Regions from separate parts of the Homo sapiens genome. Here region 1 is linked to region 2. Evidence: fine-mapped QTL for protein levels in blood plasma. Region 2 holds a variant in brackets. A gene starts in the other region. All regions are shown on their reverse strands. Region 1 holds the start of LAMB1 (laminin subunit beta 1). Region 2 has its middle 10 kb from the start of SBK2.

Evidence for each region. A credible set is the group of variants that fine-mapping cannot tell apart. PIP is the posterior inclusion probability: the model's chance that the variant is causal. The UK Biobank Pharma Proteomics Project read protein levels with antibody pairs (Olink). The fine-mapping took linkage between variants from a reference panel, not from the people measured, so its PIPs are less certain.
Region 1: it holds the start of LAMB1, and the variant in region 2 is the best candidate, but not a certain one, in a credible set for the plasma level of the LAMB1 protein (UK Biobank, PIP 0.66).

What each region holds. Positions count from the first base shown.
Region 1 is chr7:108,001,746-108,004,568 of GRCh38, reverse strand. It overlaps LAMB1 (laminin subunit beta 1), which reads left to right and starts at 1,408. Exons shown (of 34, transcript NM_002291.3): 1 at 1,408-1,458; 2 at 1,598-1,720. The coding sequence starts at 1,684.
Region 2 is chr19:55,525,527-55,528,426 of GRCh38, reverse strand. No RefSeq gene overlaps it. Among named protein-coding and RNA genes, the nearest start is that of SBK2, 10 kb to the left of the region's middle. RefSeq lists an enhancer at 1,396-2,270. The variant T/C (reference allele first, on the strand shown) is at 1,694.

The DNA of each region.
Region 1 (2,823 bases), not on the chromosome of region 2:
TTAAACTTCTCTGGGCCTTATTTCGTTACAGCTAAGTTAAAAACTGACCAGCTAGCCGCTTAAACTCTTCTCCCGGAAATGACTGGAAAACAAGCCAAGTCTCCTGACTGGACTGACAACTAACTATACTCCCTGAATTCCAGCCACATTTGCCCAGAGCAGGACTCCAAGCTTTGACTCTGTCCATTGCTAAGGGTAGCAGAATGGGTGGTGGGGTCCCGTCACCAACCTCTTTTCCCTCTCCAACCCCTAGAAGGTGGTGAGTTTCTATGTACCCCTAATTTCACCAGGCAGGTTACACTGTGTTGTTAGAGACCCTTCATTAGAGGCCCTCTCCCCACCTCAGCATTTGCACACCATGGAGAATCGTCGAGATGAGCGTTGTGGGGAAGTGCCTCTCATGAGAGATTTCCACTTCCTGGCTGTGTCAACTCTTCCACGGCGAGATGGGAAACGGAGTCAGTAACAATAATAGTGTCATTTGAGGAATTACCTGAGCTAAAGCCATCATCTGGATATAGGTAGGAAGATTTTTTTTTTTTTTTGAGACGTAGTTTTGCTCTTGTTGCCCAGGCTGGAGTGCAATGGCACGATCCCGGTTCACGGCAACCTCCTTCTCCCAGGTTCAAGCGATTTTCGTGCCTCGGCCTCCCGAGTAGCTGGGATTACAGGCGCCCGCCACCACGCCCAGCTAATTTTTGTATTTTTAGTAGAGATGGAGTTGCACCATGTTGGAAGTAGATTTTTTAAAAACAGAACTGGACGTTCAATTCAATGCCGTGACCACCTGGGTAACAGGGATTACAGATAGGTCCTGAATAAATGTGTGCGCAAAGAATTGCAGGGCGCACAGAGCTTCTCCTCCTTCCTAGGAAGACACTGTAGATGTCGCGCCCATCCCAAGCTCTTGGATACTAGGGGCGGAGAGGAAGTGTCACTTTCTAAAGAACAAACACGACAGGTCGACCCTGTTTCTAAAGGGTTAACCCGCCTTCCCCGAGCGCACCGCACGAGAGTTTTAGCCGTGGGCACGTTTGGTGATTCACTTCTTGCGAACGTAAATGCGCGAGTCCGCGGTAGGTCCCGCCGGCCCCCTGGCTGGGCAACCTGAAAACCCACCTCGGAGACGCCCCCACGCATCCGCCCCCCTCGCTGGACGGCCCCGCCGCGCGCCGTTCTGGGACGCGCACCCCGGGGCGGACCCGCCCTGGGACCTGGAAGCGCCCCAGCCCCGCAGCGATCGCAGATTCGGCTTTCAAACAAAAGAGGCGCCCCGGGGGGTGGGACCGGGACCTCACCCGGTCCTCGCAGAGTTGCGGCCGCCCGCCCCTTCAGCCCCGGCTCTCCGTATGCGCATGAGCAGAGGCGCCTCCCTCTGTTCCTCCCAAGGCTAAACTTTCTAATTCCCTTCTTTGGGCTCGGGGGCTCCCGGAGCAGGGCGAGAGCTCGCGTCGCCGGGTGAGGAGAACAAAGTGGCTGCACGATTTTCCCCACTTTCCAGCCCACCCCCCGCTTCCGTGGGAGCGACAGGAAATGGAAGGGCGCCTCTTCTCTCTTTGAACATTTGCCTTTTTTCCCCTCCTTTCCACCTCTCCAGAAAGGAAGACGGGAAGAAAGGGCAGGCGGCTCGGCGGGCGTCTTCTCCACTCCTCTGCCGCGTCCCCGTGGCTGCAGGGAGCCGGCATGGGGCTTCTCCAGTTGCTAGCTTTCAGTTTCTTAGGTAATTCCGTGGAAACGGTGCGGGGAGGCGGACGGACTTGGGCATGGGGAAGGAAAACCCAAAAGCTGCTTGCTCACCTTCGTGGGATCCTGGGGGCTTGGGAGAGGGACTGGATGGAAATGACGCCCCTGGGATTAAACGCCACCGCCCTTGCTTCGGTGGTGGCTGGAGACAGCGCACGCGGAGCGCCGCGGACCCTCATCCCCCGGGCTCTGCGCCCAAGCCCCGGCCCCTGCGGCCTCCCGCGGCCCCCGCTCAGGGTTTTGCACCCTCGGCCGGTTCACCCTGGGTTTCCCCACCGCAGAGGGCAGGTTCCCTGGGGTTGGCGGTGCTGACCGAGGAGGGCTCTCCAAAAATCCATTGCCCAGGAGAGTGCCTGAGCTGAGCGGAGGCTTCATTCTGGGAACAGATGGGGGCCATGTGGCTTTAATTAACCATCTCTGTTTGTCTCCGGATGGCACCAGAAACAGCAGGACCTGGCGCTTCCCTGGAATGGAGAAGCCTTGAAACCACTCCAGAGCCCCAGGGACTGTCCATGGGCTCCCCTAGCTCCGGAAAGCGGCGTCCACCGCGAGCCCCGGCGCCTCGTCCCCAGCGAAGCGCCGGTGACCCTCGCGCGTGCACGCACACGCACTCTCGCTTCCCAAGCTCACAGATCTCCACGCGCACACTCACACCGAGGATGCGCGGGCTGCCGCGTGCACGCGGGTTCACGTGCGTGGGTGTGTGGCCCTTTGGGGGTCAGCCTCCCTGCGCCGGGCTCCGGACACGTCGAAGTGGAGGGTCTACACATCCACCCTTTGTTGGGGGAGCTGCTCCCCGGGGCTGATCAGGGTGGGCGCGAGCGTCGGTGGGTTTCCCGGGAGGGAGGCTCTCGCTGCTGGACAGACCTGATGACGTGTGTGGGTTTCTTTCCGTGTCCTTCTCCTTTCGGAGTCCCTGCCTTCCCAGCCTCTCCTGCGCTCATCTCTCCATTGTCTTTTCTGTGCATTTTGCTTTCTTCCGAATGGACTGTCCTCTCTCCGCACCCACTCCCCCGCCCCCGCTTGTTCGTTTTTTTCGGGCTCCACTCCCTGCTTGTGTCCCCCCAACTCTGTTGCCTG
Region 2 (2,900 bases):
AGAGATGCAGATAGAAAAACAGACACACAAAAAGAAACAGGTGGAGGAAGAGAGAGAGAGAAACAGACACAGACACATACAGAGATAGAAAGAGAAACAGACAGAGACAGAGAGAGAAACAGAGATGGAGAGAGACAAACACAGGAAGAGAGACACAGACAGAAAAGAGACAGAGAGGAAGGGAGAGAGAGAGACGGAGGGGCGAGGATGAGCTGCCTGAGCTCATGGTGCTGCCTGAGCCTCCCTGCTGTCCTGCAGGGGGTCCTGATGGCAGAGCTGTGGGCAGGAGGGAGTGAGCCACCTGCTTCTAAGAATCCCTCTCCTTTACCAAACCAAAGTTTGTGTGCTAACAATGGAATGAAAGATATGGTTCTCAAAGCTTCCATCAAGGAACTCTATATGCATGTGTGCATGAGTGTGTGTGAGTGTGCATGTGTGTGAGTGTATGCGTGTGCATATGAGTGTGAGAGTGCACATCTGTGCAAGTGTGAATGTCGTGAGCATGAGTGTGTGCCAGTGAGTGTGCACGTGTCTGAGTGTGAGTGTGCGTGCATGCGAGTGTGCACATTGTGCGAGTGTGTGCGCGTGTGTGCAATTGTGAGTGTGTGCATGTGTGTGCAAATGTGTGCAAGTCAGTAATGTGTGAGCATGAGTATGTGTGCCAGTGTGCGTGTGTCCATGAGTGTGAGTGTGCATGTGTCCATGAGTATGCGTATGTGTGCCAGTGTGCATGTGTGTCCATGAGTGTGAGTGTGCATGTGTCCATGAGTATGCGTATGTGTGCCAGTGTGCATGTGTGTCCATGAGTGTGAGTGTGCATGTGTGTCCATGAGTATGTGTGTGTGCGTGAGTGTGCACATGTGTGTGAATGTGTGTGAATGTGTGTGTGCAAGTGTGCACATATGTGCAAGTGTGAATGTCCTGTGTGCATGAGTGTGTGTGCGATTGAGTGTATACATATGCATATGTGAGTACAAGTGTGCACATGTGTGCAAGTGTGAATGTCATACGTGAGCATGTGCCAGTGTTCATCTGTGTCCACGAGTATGTGTGTGCATGTGTGTGCAAGTGTGAACGAGTGTGCACATGTGTGCACATGTAAATTCGTGGGTGAGCATGAGTGTGTACGCCAGTGACTGTGCGTGTGTGTCCATGACTTGCGTGTGTGTGCACATGTGTGCAAGTATGAATGTGTGTGCGTGCGTGTGAGTACAAGTGTGCACATATGTGCAAGTGTGACTGTCCTGTGCATGAGTGTGTGTGAGTGTGTGCGTGTGTGTGCGATTGAGTATGCATATGCATAAGTGAGTACAAGTGTGCACATGTGTGCAAGTGTGTGTCATGTGTGAGCATGAGTATGTGTGCCAGTGAGTATTCATGTGTCCACGAGTATGTGTGTGTGCATGTGTGCAAGTGTGAATGTGTGTGCATGTATGAGTGTGCACATGTGTGCACATGTAAATTCGTGGGTGAGCATGAGTGTGTACGCCAGTGAGTGTACATGTGTAAGCATAAGTGTGTGTGCACGTGTGTGCAAGTGTGAATGTCATGTGTGAGCATGAGTATGTGTACGCCAGTGTGAGTGTGCATGTGTGAGCATGTGTGTGCACGTGTGTGAATGCATATGCATGGAAAGGAGGGAGGATGGCGTTGTGTGTCTCACTGCACGTGGATGATAATACAGCTTTGTGCC[T/C]GCTGTGTCTGCATGAGCATCTGAGCTTGTGTGTGCTGACGTACTTGTGTGTATGGGGAGTGAATGTGACTTGCTATGTGTGGACATCGGATCCGTGTGTGTGCGCGCATATGCCTGTCAATGTGTAGCCAGGGTGGGAAGGTCACGCAGGCGCCGCGGGCGGGCGCCGCCTGGGCCTTCTCTCCTTCGCACCTTCCTCCTCTCTCCCCCGCCCCTGCTTGGCAGCTGCCCTGTTTGCAAACACTGTCTCTTCCTCTCCGCGCCCTCCTTGGCCTCAGGCCCAGAGCAAGGCTACAACTCGGAGCTGGATCGTGTGTCACGCACTCCCTGGCCCCTGCATACCCCGCAGGGCGCCTGCTGTGGCCACCGAGGTGTTGCCTGGAGCGGGGCTGACAGCAGGTGTGCTCCTGTGGAGTGACCCCAAGGAGCCTTCGAATCCAGGTTCAAGCCATAGAGTTGGGGCCTCTGACCTGGACAATCCGGGTGAGCTTCCTGGAGTAGGGATCATTGGGGAGAAGAGGGGAGTCAACAACGCGGGGGGTGGGGGGTGGGGGTGGAATATATCAAGACTTCCTGCCCCTTTATCTGTGAATCTGAAATAGCCTGAGCTGTTAGGCCAAGAATGTGTCCCAAAAAGCTGGAGGTGGCTGGGATGCGGCATGCTGGGTGGGAGTGGAGACTGGGCAGGGGGCAGGGGGGCACGAGGTGTTGATTGCTGGCGGCAGCTGAGGATTATCTGAAAGGTGATAATGACCAGCCTGTCATGGGTGAAGCACAGGGGAGGACATAAACTTCCCAGGAATGGCCTGACCCCGGCAGGCAGGCAGGCAGGGACGACACTAATTAAGTAATGCTTAGTGCTGGCCGGAGGCTGAACCCCAACCAGGGATCTCAGAGGCCACGTCTGCTCCCCGACCTGTCCCCAAGATGGTGGCGGGGGTCCCTGGGCTCTGCCCATCTCACGCACGGGGCAGCCAGGTTCCCGCCGTGCCCACACACCGGGCCGGGGGGCAAAGCCTGGAGTCGAACCCAGCTGGGCTCCAGCACATGGTCCCTGCTGTTAACCTGCAGGGATGTCCTGCCGTGCTCAGCGGGAGGAGGGGCTTGGGGGCACGGGGGTGTGGGTGAGTGGGCGGGTGGGGGTGAGGGTGTGTGTGCGGGTGATTGTGAGTGTGCATGAGGGAGTAAGCTTGTGAGCGTGAGCGAG